2 linked regions of the Homo sapiens genome follow. The protein of the gene in region 1 interacts with the protein of each later gene in a pairwise test. Each region holds a gene or a part of one and is shown in the gene's direction. Other genes may lie near its edges.

What was found. Proteins that work in one complex are often made in the same cells at the same time.
Region 2: the proteins of ZFHX3 (region 1) and LMNB2 interact in binary tests that used the Homo sapiens proteins (3 or more experiments, as listed by UniProt).

What each region holds. Positions count from the first base shown.
Region 1 is NC_000016.10:72,792,067-72,800,810, reverse strand, and holds part of ZFHX3 (zinc finger homeobox protein 3), read left to right. Parts: intron 1-681; coding exon 682-784; intron 785-2,096; coding exon 2,097-7,556; intron 7,557-8,744.
Region 2 is NC_000019.10:2,432,009-2,440,008, reverse strand, and holds part of LMNB2 (lamin-B2), read left to right. Parts: intron 1-1,477; coding exon 1,478-1,634; intron 1,635-1,720; coding exon 1,721-1,846; intron 1,847-4,837; coding exon 4,838-5,008; exon of another isoform or gene 5,009-5,095; coding exon 5,096-5,221; intron 5,222-5,493; coding exon 5,494-5,714; intron 5,715-5,903; coding exon 5,904-6,183; intron 6,184-7,485; coding exon 7,486-7,593; intron 7,594-8,000. UniProt on the Homo sapiens protein: Lamins are intermediate filament proteins that assemble into a filamentous meshwork, and which constitute the major components of the nuclear lamina, a fibrous layer on the nucleoplasmic side of the inner nuclear membrane.

The sequences.
Region 1 (8,744 bases):
GTTCCCTCTGATGTTGTATACCTTGGGCAGAGACTCCAGAAGAAATCGTGGCTTAAGTGAGTCACAAAAAAAGGCTTGTTTGTGCTTGATGTCAGCTTGTAAAGGGTTACAAATGTTGTTTTCCTGGAAAATCTGCCAGCATGTCTGCGTGTCCCTAGCCTTCCCTTTGTTCTCTTCTTTTCTTCTTACCCTTTCCTTCACTCTTACTCCCCTCCTCCTCTTGCCTGAATACGTTCTGAAAACAGTACTACAATGCTCCCTGCTTCAAGATTACAGTGTACTTTACTAGGTATGATTTAATTAGGGCCCTTATTATGTTTTCAGCAGCTTAAGGTGGGCCTTTCAACTTATCTACCTAATTGGTTGCACAAGAAGTTTCACAGCCCATGACAAAACATTGTCAGTGATCAAAGTCAAAATTCTGCATAAAGGAAAAATATTAATAAGAAGATTATTCTTCAAGTGTGCACTGCTAATTATGTCCAGAATGTAACCGTAGAAACACTTTTGACTGATGTGAGCTTTGTCTAATAAACATGAATCTTCAGTGAGCTATGAAAAGTGAGACACCTCTAGCTTTACACTGGTGAAGGCTAATTTTGCTTATTAAATAATTTTTAAACATTTCCTATTTTGTGTCGCTTTCCTCTCCATTTGACTCTCCTTGCTCTTGCTCCTCAGGTGACCACCCCTGAGATGGTGATGCCAAGCAGCATGTTCCTCCCAGCAGCTGTTCCAGATCGAGATGGGAATTCCAATTTGGAAGAGGCAGGAAAGCAGCCTGGTCAGTATCATTATTCTTGACCCCAAGAAATTGAAACAAGATGGAATGCCAAAATGTTCATGGAGAAAGGTTTTCAGGAATTCTTTACAATACTCTTAAGGTGAATGTAACTGATCAGGAGATGAGGGGCACTGTCATCAGCTACTTTATACTCTGCTTCTTGGCATGTATTTGTATATTACTCACATGGTTTAAAGTGAGAGAAAATTAGTATGAGAACCAGTGGAATTCTGGCACAGACACACACATCTTCTTAAACTATACAATTAGGGAGTGAATAACCAGAGACTCAGTCAGTAGGCCCTACCATTCTAAGCCATTAAACACTGTATTTCTGAGGACTTAATTAGTAGGGACTTGTGGGTTGATTTTTAGGTACACTGGATTAGTTGTCTTTCGTTCTGAGTTTTTTGGGATTGGCTTAGGATGAAGCACAGAGATGCTGATGGAAAGAACATTGTTGTAGACAGTAGTTGGTGCCACATAGTGTTTCCTGGCTAGATGAATGGTTAGACCTCTGTGAGGCTGTCCTACATCGTTCACCTCTAAGGTGGGAAGAGTTCTAAGTTGGGAAGAGTTTGGCCACACTACTGTCCTGCCTTCTCTCTTTCTTGTGAGTTTTCCATATTAGACAATGGACAAATGACCTGTTAAAGGGTCTCGGTATTTATGAGTGTGATGATCTCATTGTAGGGAAAAAAATGTATTTTAAATAATTGAACACTTGAATGTTAATTGCTTATTGAATAGAGATGGCAATCAGAAGTCACATTATAACAAGAAATTAAATGCCTAAAAATATGTATCCCCAAATTTCTTATATTACGATGTTCAGCAGTTCTTGTAAATTCCTCACAACTTAGGACAGCATTAATTCACATATTCTACACTTCAGATCTACTGTGCTAAATGCTTATTACATAAAAGATGAACATAAAAGGGAAATCCAGTCTAAGATCAGTAACCTTCAAACCAGCTCTTGAGAAATTGAGGATTCTGAGTCAAGCAATTAAATGCTATTTAAAAGACTGTTAGATCTGTGATATGACATGGGTCTATTATGCATTGAAACTTTTTGTATTTCCTTTTATCCATCTCTGTTCATGTGCACCCTGTTTATAATATGTGCTCTATTGGAGGAACAAAAGAAAGCAGGAGGCGCTCCGCAGAGATTCTGTCATTCAGGTTGGGCACTTCCCTCATCATCAGATTCTGTGTTCATGAGGCCTGACTAGGTAGACCGCTCTGGGTGCCATCCTTGAAACAAAGCCTTCTTTATCTTTGGGTTTGATTTTTTTTTTTTTTTTAACAGAAACCTCAGAGGATCTGGGAAAGAACATCTTGCCATCCGCAAGCACAGAGCAAAGCGGAGATTTGAAACCATCCCCTGCTGACCCAGGCTCTGTGAGAGAAGACTCAGGCTTCATCTGCTGGAAGAAGGGGTGCAACCAGGTTTTCAAAACTTCTGCTGCCCTTCAGACGCATTTTAATGAAGTGCATGCCAAGAGGCCTCAGCTGCCGGTGTCAGATCGCCATGTGTACAAGTACCGCTGTAATCAGTGTAGCCTGGCCTTCAAGACCATTGAAAAGTTGCAGCTCCATTCTCAGTACCATGTGATCAGAGCTGCCACCATGTGCTGTCTTTGTCAGCGCAGTTTCCGAACTTTCCAGGCTCTGAAGAAGCACCTTGAGACAAGCCACCTGGAGCTGAGTGAGGCTGACATCCAACAGCTTTATGGTGGCCTGCTGGCCAATGGGGACCTCCTGGCAATGGGAGACCCCACTCTGGCAGAGGACCATACCATAATTGTTGAGGAAGACAAGGAGGAAGAGAGTGACTTGGAAGATAAACAGAGCCCAACGGGCAGTGACTCTGGGTCAGTACAAGAAGACTCGGGCTCAGAGCCAAAGAGAGCTCTGCCTTTCAGAAAAGGTCCCAATTTTACTATGGAAAAGTTCCTAGACCCTTCTCGCCCTTACAAGTGTACCGTCTGCAAGGAATCTTTCACTCAAAAGAATATCCTGCTAGTACACTACAATTCTGTCTCCCACCTGCATAAGTTAAAGAGAGCCCTTCAAGAATCAGCAACCGGTCAGCCAGAACCCACCAGCAGCCCAGACAACAAACCTTTTAAGTGTAACACTTGTAATGTGGCCTACAGCCAGAGTTCCACTCTGGAGATCCATATGAGGTCTGTGTTACATCAAACCAAGGCCCGGGCAGCCAAGCTGGAGGCTGCAAGTGGCAGCAGCAATGGGACTGGGAACAGCAGCAGTATTTCCTTGAGCTCCTCCACGCCAAGTCCTGTGAGCACCAGTGGCAGTAACACCTTTACCACCTCCAATCCAAGCAGTGCTGGCATTGCTCCAAGCTCTAACTTACTAAGCCAAGTGCCCACTGAGAGTGTAGGGATGCCACCCCTGGGGAATCCTATTGGTGCCAACATTGCTTCCCCTTCAGAGCCCAAAGAGGCCAATCGGAAGAAACTGGCAGATATGATTGCATCCAGGCAGCAGCAACAACAGCAGCAGCAACAGCAACAACAACAACAACAACAACAACAACAAGCACAAACGCTGGCCCAGGCCCAGGCTCAAGTTCAAGCTCACCTGCAGCAGGAGCTGCAGCAACAGGCTGCCCTGATCCAGTCTCAGCTGTTTAACCCCACCCTCCTTCCTCACTTCCCCATGACAACTGAGACCCTGCTGCAACTACAGCAGCAGCAGCACCTCCTCTTCCCTTTCTACATCCCCAGTGCTGAGTTCCAGCTTAACCCCGAGGTGAGCTTGCCAGTGACCAGTGGGGCACTGACACTGACTGGGACAGGCCCAGGCCTGCTGGAAGATCTGAAGGCTCAGGTTCAGGTCCCACAGCAGAGCCATCAGCAGATCTTGCCGCAGCAGCAGCAGAACCAACTCTCTATAGCCCAGAGTCACTCTGCCCTCCTTCAGCCAAGCCAGCACCCCGAAAAGAAGAACAAATTGGTCATCAAAGAAAAGGAAAAAGAAAGCCAGAGAGAGAGGGACAGCGCCGAGGGGGGAGAGGGCAACACCGGTCCGAAGGAAACACTGCCAGATGCCTTGAAGGCCAAAGAGAAGAAAGAGTTGGCACCAGGGGGTGGTTCTGAGCCTTCCATGCTCCCTCCACGCATTGCTTCAGATGCCAGAGGGAACGCCACCAAGGCCCTGCTGGAGAACTTTGGCTTTGAGTTGGTCATCCAGTATAATGAGAACAAGCAGAAGGTGCAGAAAAAGAATGGGAAGACTGACCAGGGAGAGAACCTGGAAAAGCTCGAGTGTGACTCCTGCGGCAAGTTGTTTTCCAACATCTTGATTTTAAAGAGTCATCAAGAGCACGTTCATCAGAATTACTTTCCTTTCAAACAGCTCGAGAGGTTTGCCAAACAGTACAGAGACCACTACGATAAACTGTACCCACTGAGGCCCCAGACCCCAGAGCCACCACCACCTCCCCCTCCACCCCCTCCACCCCCACTTCCGGCAGCGCCGCCTCAGCCGGCGTCCACACCAGCCATCCCCGCATCAGCCCCACCCATCACCTCACCTACAATTGCACCGGCCCAGCCATCAGTGCCGCTCACCCAGCTCTCCATGCCGATGGAGCTGCCCATCTTCTCGCCGCTGATGATGCAGACGATGCCGCTGCAGACCTTGCCGGCTCAGCTACCCCCGCAGCTGGGACCTGTGGAGCCTCTGCCTGCGGACCTGGCCCAACTCTACCAGCATCAGCTCAATCCAACCCTGCTCCAGCAGCAGAACAAGAGGCCTCGCACCAGGATCACAGATGATCAGCTCCGAGTCTTGCGGCAATATTTTGACATTAACAACTCCCCCAGTGAAGAGCAAATAAAAGAGATGGCAGACAAGTCCGGGTTGCCCCAGAAAGTGATCAAGCACTGGTTCAGGAACACTCTCTTCAAAGAGAGGCAGCGTAACAAGGACTCCCCTTACAACTTCAGTAATCCTCCTATCACCAGCCTGGAGGAGCTCAAGATTGACTCCCGGCCCCCTTCGCCGGAACCTCCAAAGCAGGAGTACTGGGGAAGCAAGAGGTCTTCAAGAACAAGGTTTACGGACTACCAGCTGAGGGTCTTACAGGACTTCTTCGATGCCAATGCTTACCCAAAGGATGATGAATTTGAGCAACTCTCTAATTTACTGAACCTTCCAACCCGAGTGATAGTGGTGTGGTTTCAGAATGCCCGACAGAAGGCCAGGAAGAATTATGAGAATCAGGGAGAGGGCAAAGATGGAGAGCGGCGTGAGCTTACAAATGATAGATACATTCGAACAAGCAACTTGAACTACCAGTGCAAAAAATGTAGCCTGGTGTTTCAGCGCATCTTTGATCTCATCAAGCACCAGAAGAAGCTGTGTTACAAGGATGAGGATGAGGAGGGGCAGGACGACAGCCAAAATGAGGATTCCATGGATGCCATGGAAATCCTGACGCCTACCAGCTCATCCTGCAGTACCCCGATGCCCTCACAGGCTTACAGCGCCCCAGCACCATCAGCCAATAATACAGCTTCCTCCGCTTTCTTGCAGCTTACAGCGGAGGCTGAGGAACTGGCCACCTTCAATTCAAAAACAGAGGCAGGCGATGAGAAACCAAAGCTGGCGGAAGCTCCCAGTGCACAGCCAAACCAAACCCAAGAAAAGCAAGGACAACCAAAGCCAGAGCTGCAGCAGCAAGAGCAGCCCGAGCAGAAGACCAACACTCCCCAGCAGAAGCTCCCCCAGCTGGTGTCCCTGCCTTCGTTGCCACAGCCTCCTCCACAAGCGCCCCCTCCACAGTGCCCCTTACCCCAGTCGAGCCCCAGTCCTTCCCAGCTCTCCCACCTGCCCCTCAAGCCCCTCCACACATCAACTCCTCAACAGCTCGCAAACCTACCTCCTCAGCTAATCCCCTACCAGTGTGACCAGTGTAAGTTGGCATTTCCGTCATTTGAGCACTGGCAGGAGCATCAGCAGCTCCACTTCCTGAGCGCGCAGAACCAGTTCATCCACCCCCAGTTTTTGGACAGGTCCCTGGATATGCCTTTCATGCTCTTTGATCCCAGTAACCCACTCCTGGCCAGCCAGCTGCTCTCTGGGGCCATACCTCAGATTCCAGCAAGCTCAGCCACTTCTCCTTCAACTCCAACCTCCACAATGAACACTCTCAAGAGGAAGCTGGAGGAAAAGGCCAGTGCAAGCCCTGGCGAAAACGACAGTGGGACAGGAGGAGAAGAGCCTCAGAGAGACAAGCGTTTGAGAACAACCATCACACCGGAACAACTAGAAATTCTCTACCAGAAGTATCTACTGGATTCCAATCCGACTCGAAAGATGTTGGATCACATTGCACACGAGGTGGGCTTGAAGAAACGTGTGGTACAAGTCTGGTTTCAGAACACCCGAGCTCGGGAAAGGAAAGGACAGTTCCGGGCTGTAGGCCCAGCGCAGGCCCACAGGAGATGCCCTTTTTGCAGAGCGCTCTTCAAAGCCAAGACTGCTCTTGAGGCTCATATCCGGTCCCGTCACTGGCATGAAGCCAAGAGAGCTGGCTACAACCTAACTCTGTCTGCGATGCTCTTAGACTGTGATGGGGGACTCCAGATGAAAGGAGATATTTTTGACGGAACTAGCTTTTCCCACCTACCCCCAAGCAGTAGTGATGGTCAGGGTGTCCCCCTCTCACCTGTGAGTAAAACCATGGAATTGTCACCCAGAACTCTTCTAAGCCCTTCCTCCATTAAGGTGGAAGGGATTGAAGACTTTGAAAGCCCCTCCATGTCCTCAGTTAATCTAAACTTTGACCAAACTAAGCTGGACAACGATGACTGTTCCTCTGTCAACACAGCAATCACAGATACCACAACTGGAGACGAGGGCAACGCAGATAACGACAGTGCAACGGGAATAGCAACTGAAACCAAATCCTCTTCTGCACCCAACGAAGGGTTGACCAAAGCGGCCATGATGGCAATGTCTGAGTATGAAGATCGGTTGTCATCTGGTCTGGTCAGCCCGGCCCCGAGCTTTTATAGCAAGGAATATGACAATGAAGGTACAGTGGACTACAGTGAAACCTCAAGCCTTGCAGATCCCTGCTCCCCGAGTCCTGGTGCGAGTGGATCTGCAGGCAAATCTGGTGACAGCGGAGATCGGCCTGGGCAGAAACGTTTTCGCACTCAAATGACCAATCTGCAGCTGAAGGTCCTCAAGTCATGCTTTAATGACTACAGGACACCCACTATGCTAGAATGTGAGGTCCTGGGCAATGACATTGGACTGCCAAAGAGAGTCGTTCAGGTCTGGTTCCAGAATGCCCGGGCAAAAGAAAAGAAGTCCAAGTTAAGCATGGCCAAGCATTTTGGTATAAACCAAACGAGTTATGAGGGACCCAAAACAGAGTGCACTTTGTGTGGCATCAAGTACAGCGCTCGGCTGTCTGTACGTGACCATATCTTTTCCCAACAGCATATCTCCAAAGTTAAAGACACCATTGGAAGCCAGCTGGACAAGGAGAAAGAATACTTTGACCCAGCCACCGTACGTCAGTTGATGGCTCAACAAGAGTTGGACCGGATTAAAAAGGCCAACGAGGTCCTTGGACTGGCAGCTCAGCAGCAAGGGATGTTTGACAACACCCCTCTTCAGGCCCTTAACCTTCCTACAGCATATCCAGCGCTCCAGGGCATTCCTCCTGTGTTGCTCCCGGGCCTCAACAGCCCCTCCTTGCCAGGCTTTACTCCATCCAACACAGGTGGGTTCTGCTCTAGGCGATTGTTTCAGGGCTAAATAGCTGCCCAGTCAGCATTCTGTTATGTGGATACCACCCAAACCCTCTGAGTGCTGGGCAGATGGGAAGCTTACCTTTCTAGTTCTTTAAAAGCAACAAGACTTCAGTTCGTTCCTGTTGAGTCTCCCAAGTACTGGTGTGTCAGGGATGGGACCTCCTGGTCGGAACAGTCTCCTTTGAAACCACTCTTATCCCCTATAATAGGGAAAAACTTGAGGGTCCTGGCATACTAATTTCTGGAATATTTCAAGAAACAAGTTTTTATCATAGACCCTTTCATTCAGTCCTTGTGGAAATGCTGATCCTGTCTAGATATTTGTTGTAAATATAAGACACCTGAGTTAGTCCTAGCTAATTCTGGATTATGCCCTAAGAAAACTGGTCCAAGAGCATTTAAATCAACTCTTTGCCCTCACCTGGGGTCCCTGCCTTCTTGAGAGAGCTACGGTGGCAAAAGAACTGCTATCAGGGCCGGGTGCAGTGGTTCATGCCTGTAATCCCAGCACTTTGGGAGGCCGAGGCGGGCAGATCACAAGGTCAGGAAATCGAGACCAGCCTGGCCAACATGGTGAAACCCCATCTCTACTAAAAATACAAAAATTACCCAAGTGTGGTGGTATGCACCTATAGTCCCAGCTATTCGGGAGGCTGAGGCAGGAGAATCGCTTGAACCCTGGAGGCAGACAGTGGTTTGAGATTGTGCCACTGCACTCCAGCCTGGGTGACACAGCGAGACTGTCTCAAAAAAAGAAAAAAAAAAGAACTACCAGAAGGTCTTATGTGGTAGATCCTTAATGTTGGGGTTCTCTTCTAGCCAGAACAATAGTGGCTGTTTTTAACAAGATGGCCGTTCTACTTGAGTGCACTGACCAGGAATCTTGTATTGGGCAATGTGGTTCTGTTAAAATACTGATGCACATTTCAGAGGTCCTCAGTCACCTCTTTTTTTTCCTTTTGCCCATTTCCTTTTCCTTGCTCCTGATCACTGAGAATCATACATATTTGTTGCTCTTATAGTCTCACTTAATAGGGAGTTTTGCAGTTCTTCCTACATACTTCTCTTGTTTCTCCTTCTCTGTCCTCACATCTTCTCTGGATCCAGCCATCTTTGCTAAATTGGACCTTCACCTCCAGGGTCCTGTTAGGCTTAGA
Region 2 (8,000 bases), on another chromosome or scaffold:
TGTAATCCCAGCACTTTGGAGGCCGAGGCGGGCAGATCACCTGAGGTTGGGAGTTCGAGACCAGCCTGGCCAACATGGAGAAACCCCATCTCTACTAAAAATAAAAAATTAGCGGACGCTGGTGGCGCATGCCTGTAATCCCAGCTACACAGGAGGCTGAGGCAGGAGAATTGTTTGAACCCGGGAGGCGGAGGTTGCAGTGAGCCGAGATCACGCCATTGCAATCCAGCCTGGGCAACAAGAGCGAAACTCCAACTCAAAAAAAAAAAAAGGCTCTAGGGAGAGTCGGGAGTGCATTCTGCTGGGCAGGAGAGGTCCCTGTCACTTCTGACCTCTGGCCACGGGCTCGAGCCGCCTGGATGTGGATGTTCTTTGAATGTCCAGCCAGCAGCCTTGGCTGTGTTATTCCAGATACACCCAGTTGTCCCCATCCTGGGGTGATTCTGTCCCCAGGGGACACTGGGTGATTCCTGGGGACACTTGTGGTTGTCAAAACTGGGCAGCAAGAAGCTCCTGGTCTGAAGTGGGTGGAGGCCAGGGACAGTGCTCAGCACCCTGCAGTGCCTAGGACCACCCCAAATGTCAGCAGTTGTGACGCTGCGGAACCCTGGATGTCCTCACTCGACCACCCCAAATGTCAGCAGTTGTGACGCTGCAGAACCCTGGGTGCCCTCACTCAAGACCACCCCAGATGTCAGCAGTTGTGACGCTGCGGAACCCTGGGTGTCCTCACTGTTTCTTGGGAGGATATAGTTAGTTCCCTGTCGGGAGGGGGTAAAATTCAGCTCCAAGACTTATAATTATGCTTAAAAACATTTAAGAGTCAGCCGTACGCGGTGGCTCGCACCTGTAATCCCAGCACTTTGGGAGGCTGAGACAGGAGGATTCCTTGAGCCCAGGAGTTCGAGACCAGCCTGTGCAAACAAGTGAACCCCTGTCTCTTAAAAAAAAAAAAAAAAAAAAAAAAAAAAAAGCTTAAGTGCCTACAATCCACACTGGTAGTATTTGTGTGTTTAAAAAGCCTGAGTATTTGCTATCTTAAATATCTAATGTTGGAGCTAATTTGGTTTAGTGGAAAACCAGGTGAGCCTGCTTCAGACAGCTTAAGTTTACAAACAAGGCTGACCCTTCAAAGGCCAGGGTCTTTGTAACATTTACAGAGGATGCATTAATTTCTCCCCAAATGGTCGTCCTGGGTCCAGAACAGGCAGGAGAGGCTGGGAAAGCCCATGCCTCCAGGGTGGTCCCAAGCGCTGGTGCCTGTCACTTGCTGGACTCCTGACAGTGCAGGGCAGATGATGAGGGCACGTGTGCCTTTGCCTGGGCGCGTGGGGCCGCGTCGTCTGCAGGACGGGAAGGTCTGGGGCTCGGAGGCCTCGGTGACCTTGTCTTTGGGCTTGCCTGACGCCCCCTGAGGTGCTCCCTGTGGCCCCATGGACCTTGCCCCTCCCCACTCACTTGCCCTCTTGACTTTCAGCGCCAAGAAGAGGGAGGGCGAGCTTACGGTGGCCCAGGGCCGTGTGAAGGACCTGGAGTCCCTGTTCCACCGGAGCGAGGTGGAGCTGGCAGCTGCCCTCAGCGACAAGCGCGGCCTGGAGAGTGACGTGGCTGAGCTGCGGGCCCAGCTGGCCAAGGTAGGTGCCAGGAGCCACGGGACGCCCCAGCAGGGTATATGCAACAGACAGATTGTCACACCAGCTCGCTGTCCTGTGTCTCCCAGGCCGAGGACGGTCATGCAGTGGCCAAAAAGCAGCTGGAGAAGGAGACGCTGATGCGTGTGGACCTGGAGAACCGCTGCCAGAGCCTGCAGGAGGAGCTGGACTTCCGGAAGAGTGTGTTCGAGGAGGTGAGTGAGTGGCCTGGCCTCCAGCCTGGCACAGCGGAAACGCAAAGTCCACCCTCATGGCTGTGGAGGGCGGAAGCCTGAGGGCACCGTGTGGCCGGGGTCCCTCCCACGGCTCTAGGGAGGCTCCTTCCTGCCTCTTAGGGTGCCCTTGGCTTCGGCTGCGTCTCCCCAGTGTCTGCCTCTGTCTTCCCGCGGCTGCCTCCCCTGTGTCCATACTCTGTGTATCCTACAAGGACACTTGTCATTGGATTTGGGGCCTGCCTGGATCATCCAGAGTGACCTAATGGCATCTGCAGAGACCCCATTTCCAAATAAGGTCCATTCACAGCTGCTGGGGATCGGGATGTGGGCACGTCTTTTTTTGAGATGGAGTTTCACTCTGTCACCCATGCTGGAGTGCGGTGGCACGATCTTGGCTCACTGCAACCTCCGCCTCCCAGGTTCAAGCAATTCTCCTGCCTCAGCCTCCCGAGTAGCTGGATTATAGGCGTGCACCACCATGCCCAGGTAATTTATGTATTTTTAGTAGAGACGAGGTTTCACCACGTTGGCCAGGCTGGTCTCGAACTCCTGACCTCAGGTGCTTCATCCGCCTCGGCCTCCCAAACTGCTGGGATTCCAGGCGTGAGTCACCATGCCCAGCCAAAACATATCTCTTCAGTGTCAAGGAAGGTCTATTTTGATTTCTTGCCTTTCTAAAAGCTTGGTGTTCCCACCCTGAGAGCTGAACCCTGGCCGCCTGGGATCCTAACTGCTAGACCATGAGGCAGGCGTCAGGTGCATCTTCTGGGTGCCACCGTCCAGCCTCCCACAGGGCCTCCTTGTCCAAAGCGAGGGTGAGGCCCGCTCTCCCCACCCAGCCTCCTTCCCTGACCTGCAGCCCCTCACCTGGGGCCTCTGCCTCCGGGGGCTCGGAGAGGGGAGTGGGGAGGAAAGGCGTCAGCCTGTGTCCTTTAGAACCAATTGTGCTGTCACAGTGCAGGGTGGAATGCCGGGGCCGGCCGGGCCCACACTCCCTGCCCAGGGAGAGCTGCTGGCTGCTGGTGGAGGGATGTCCAGGCCGCTCAGGAGCTGCGCCCCGCTCTGGCCAGGCCCAGGGAGTGGGGGGGGCCCCACAGGAGCCAGAGGGGAGGCCGCCAGGGCAGTTGTGAAGGGGCCTGTGGGGAAACCTGTGAGACAGCCCGTGAAGAGACTCACGAGAGCTTCTGTGCGGGGGCCCAGGAACGTGCCCCAGGTGGAACCCACAGGGCACCTGGGAAAAGACCCACGAAGGCGGTGCAGGGGCCGGGAAGAGGCCCTGGAGGGGCCCTCACAGGGAGCTGCGGTAGGGAGCTTGATGATGCAGGCCTGTGCAGCCCACAGGGTGCGGAGTCCTGGAGAGGGCGGCCGTGGGGGCGGAAGGGCGGCCGTGGAGGTGGGTGCGCGGCTGTGGTGGCGGGAGGGCGGCCGTGGAGGTGGGTGCGCGGCCGTGGTGGCGGGAGGGTGGCCGTGGAGGCGAGAGGGCGGCCGTGGAGGTGGGTGCGCGGCTGTGGGGGTGGGAGGGCGGCAGTGCAGGTGGGTGAGCGGCCGTGGAGGTGGGTGCGCAGCCGTGAAGGCGGGAGGGCGGCTGTGCAGGCGGGTGCGCGGCCGTGGAGGCGGGAGGGCGGCCGTGGAGGTGGGTGCGCGGCCCGCAGGGCTCTGCTTGCCTGGGCTACCCGCCTTGCTGACTGCAAAGGTGGCCAGCTTCCTTCAGAAGCGTTTCTACTGTTTTTGTTTTGTTTTGTTTTGTTTTGTTTTGTTTTTGAGATGGAGTCTTGCTCTGTTGCCCACACTGGGCCCAGCCTCCCGAGTAGCTGGGATTATAGGTGCACAGCACCACACCCAGCTAATTTTTTTCTTTTGAGACGGAGTCTTGCTCTGTCACCCAGGCTGGAGTACGGTGGCATGATCTCAGCTCACTGCAACCTCCGCCTCCTGGGTTCAAGCGATTCTCCTGCCTCAGCCTCCTGAGTAGCTGGGATTATAGGCGGGTGCCACCAACCCGACTAATTTTTGTATTTTTAGTACAGACGGGGTTTTCACCATGTTTGTCAGGCTGGTCTTGAACTTCTGACCTCATGATCCACCTGTCTTAGCCTCCCAAAGTGCTGGGATTACAGGCTTGAGCCACTGTGCCCGGCCTAATTTTTGTATTTTTAATAGAGATGGGGTTTCACCATGTTGGCTAGGCTGGTCTCGAACTCCTGACCTCGTGATCTGCCTGCCTCAGCCTCCCAAAGTGCTGGGATTACAGGCATGAGCCACCACGCCTGGCCCGCTTTCTTCAATAATGGCTTTTATAAGAGAGAGTCACTTTTTTTTTTTTTGAGACGCAGTCTCACTTTGTTACCCAGGTTGGAGTGCAATGGTGCGATCCTGGCTCACTGCAACCTCCCAAGGTCAAGCGATTCTCTTGTCTCAGCCTCCTGAGTAGCTGGGACCACAGGTGCCCGCCACCACACCTGGCTATTTTAAGTCCACCTTTTTAAAGTGTACAGTTCAGCATTGGCAGGATCTCCACAGGGTTGTGCAACCACCACCTCTAATTCTAGAACATTCCATCACCCAAAAAGAACCCCCTCCCCATCAGCAGTCCCCAGCCCTGGCCCCCACGCATCCCCTCCCTGTCTCTGTGGATGGGCCTGTCCTGGACATTTCAGGACATTTCATGGAAATGGGATCACGCACCGTGTGGCCTTTTGTGTCTGGCGTCTCTCATTGAGTGTGACGTCCTCAAGGTGCATCCATGCTGTGGCGGTGTCAGAGCCTCGCTCCTTTTCGTGGCTGAGTCACGTTCTAGCGCGTGGACGGCCCCTGGGTCGCCTCTCACCTGCACGTGTATCGGTTTGTAACTTGTGCACAAGGAACCAGGAATTGCCTGGAGGTTCCTCTTGGCACATTTTTGAGCCCTCCCTTGGGCCTGGTGCTTGGGGCCCAGGCGGGACCAGAGGGTCACGAAGCCTTGGTCCGCAGGAGGTGCGGGAGACGCGGCGGCGGCACGAGCGGCGCCTGGTGGAGGTGGACAGCAGCCGGCAGCAGGAGTACGACTTCAAGATGGCACAGGCGCTGGAGGAGCTGCGGAGCCAGCACGACGAGCAAGTGCGGCTCTACAAGCTGGAGCTGGAGCAGACCTACCAGGCCAAGGTGTGGCCGGCAGGCGGGTGGGCGGGGGCGGCCGGTGGGAACCCCGCCCCGCCCCGCGCCCGCACTCACCCGCCCGTCTCCCCACAGCTGGACAGCGCCAAGCTGAGCTCTGACCAGAACGACAAGGCGGCCAGTGCGGCTCGCGAGGAGCTGAAGGAGGCCCGCATGCGCCTGGAGTCCCTCAGCTACCAGCTCTCCGGCCTCCAGAAGCAGGTGATGAGCACAGCGCCACCGTCTGCCGTCCCCCTGGCCCAACTTCTGGGCCCTGCCCTGGATGTGCGGGGCGTGGGGCTCTGGCCTCTTGGCATCGGATGCAGCCCTCGGGGCGCCCAGCGATGCCCCTTCCCTCCCCTCCCGTGCGCCCCATGCCCAGGCCTGGTCTCTGCCCCAGTCTGTGGTGAGGGCCCATCTCCCGCAGTCCCAGGATCACCTGGGCCTTGTGACCCATGGGCTGCCCTGACCTTCGCCACCCGCCCCCTCCGCAGGCCAGTGCCGCTGAAGATCGCATTCGGGAGCTGGAGGAGGCCATGGCCGGGGAGCGGGACAAGTTCCGGAAGATGCTGGACGCCAAGGAGCAGGAGATGACGGAGATGCGGGACGTGATGCAGCAGCAGCTGGCCGAGTACCAGGAGCTGCTGGACGTGAAGCTGGCCCTGGACATGGAGATCAACGCCTACCGGAAGCTCCTGGAGGGCGAGGAGGAGAGGTGCGGCAGGCCAGGAGGCTTGGGAGCACAGAGTGAGGAGGAGGGGCAGGGCAGGAGGAGAGGCGGGACGGGGCTGCGGGGAGTGCTGGGCAGGGGTGGAGGTGGGGCCGGGCCGTGGCCGCCACTCTGCGTGCCCTGGGCTGTCTGGGGCTCCCACTACCAGTCCCACCTTCCTTGCCTTCCCCACAGGCTGAAGCTGTCCCCCAGCCCATCCTCGCGCGTCACCGTCTCACGAGCCACCTCGAGCAGCAGCGGCAGCTTGTCCGCCACCGGGCGCCTGGGCCGCAGTAAGCGGAAGCGGCTGGAGGTGGAGGAGCCCTTGGGCAGCGGCCCAAGCGTCCTGGGCACGGGCACGGGTGGCAGCGGTGGCTTCCACCTGGCCCAGCAGGCCTCGGCCTCGGGTAGCGTCAGCATCGAGGAGATCGACCTGGAGGGCAAGTTTGTGCAGCTCAAGAACAACTCGGACAAGGTGACCGGAAAGACCGGGGCATGGGGGTAACGGGGTGACCCAGCTGATGGGGGTGACCAGGGTCAGGGTGACGGGGCTGCCGGCCAATGCGAGGCAGGGGACAAGGTGACCGGAATGACCGGGGCATGGGGGTAACGGGGTGACCCAGCTGATGGGGGTGATCAGGGTCAGGGTGACGGGGCCGCCGGCCAATACGAGGCAGGGGACAAGGTGACCGGAATGACCGGGGCATGGGGGTAACGGGGTGACCCAGCTGATGGGGGTGACCAGGGTCAGGGTGACGGGGCCGTCGGCCAATGCGAGGCAGGGGACAAGGTGACCGGAATGACCGGGGCATGGGGGTAACGGGGTGACCCAGCTGATGGGGGTGACCAGGGTCAGGGTGACGGGGCTGTCGGCCAATGCGAGGCAGGGGACAAGGTGACCGGAATGACTGGGGCATGGGGGTAACGGGGTGACCCAGCTGATGGGGGTGATCAGGGTCAGGGTGACGGGGCCGCCGGCCAATACGAGGCAGGGGACAAGGTGACCGGAATGACCGGGGCATGGGGGTAACGGGGTGACCCAGCTGATGGGGGTGATCAGGGTCAGGGTGACGGGGCCGCCGGCCAATACGAGGCAGGGGACAAGGTGACCGGAAAGACCGGGGCATGGGGGTAACGGGGTGACCCAGCTGATGGGGGTGACCAGGATCAGGGTGACGGGGCCGCCGGCCAATGCGAGGCAGGGGACAAGGTGACTGGAATGACCGGGGCATGGGGGTAACGGGGTGACCCAGCTGATGGGGGTGATCAGGGTCAGGGTGACGGGGCCGCCGGCCAATGCGAGGCAGGGGACAAGGTGACCGGAAAGACCGGGGCATGGGGGTAACGGGGTGACCCAGCTGATGGGGTGACCAGGGTCAGGGTGACGGGGCCGCCGGCCAATGCGAGGCAGGGGACAAGGTGACCGGAAAGACCGGGGCATGGGGGTAACGGGGTGACCCAGCTGATGGGGTGACCAGGGTCAGGGTGACGGGGCTGCCGGCCAATGCGAGGCAGGGGACAAGATGACTGGAAAGACCGGGGCACAGGGGTAATGGAGTGACCTAGCTGATGGGGGTGACCAGGGTCAGGGTGACAGGGCCGCCGGTCAGGACGAGGCAGGGGACAAGGTGACTGGAATGACCAGGGCATGGGGGTAATGGGGTGACCTAGCTGGTGGGGGTGACCAGGGTCAGGGTGATGGGGCCACCAGCCAGGGCGATGGGGGCGGTGTCACAGTCCTGGTGGCTGAGGGTCAGGTGTGTGCCGTGTCTTCCAGGATCAGTCTCTGGGGAACTGGAGAATCAAGAGGCAGGTCTTGGAGGGGGAGGAGATCGCCTACAAGTTCACGCCCAAGTACATCCTGCGCGCCGGCCAGATGGTCACGGTAGGTGGTGGGGCAGGAGGGCGAGGGTGGCCACGGATGGGGTGTGAGGTGGGGTCAGGGGACTGGAGGCACAGGACTTGGCGGGGGTGGGTGGGGATGATGGTGGCACCAGGCACCGTCTCAGAGCGGCTGCCGCAGTCATAGAACCTCCATGTGCTGGTGTCACCCCACTGGGCCTCCCTGGAGCCTGAGTGGTGTGCCCTGGGTCTGAGTCCAGGCTGCTGGGGCTGGCAGGCGTCCCCGTGAAGTGTTAACAGTCAGGCGCATGGGCCATGGAGCCTGGTGGGTGTCAGATCCCAGTTCAGCCCCTGCTTGCCAAGAGCCCTTGGCCTCTGTGAACCCTGGTCTCTTCTTGTGTATCCTGGGGACCATCACCCTGGATAAGCCTGCGTCGGGCTGGAAGGACT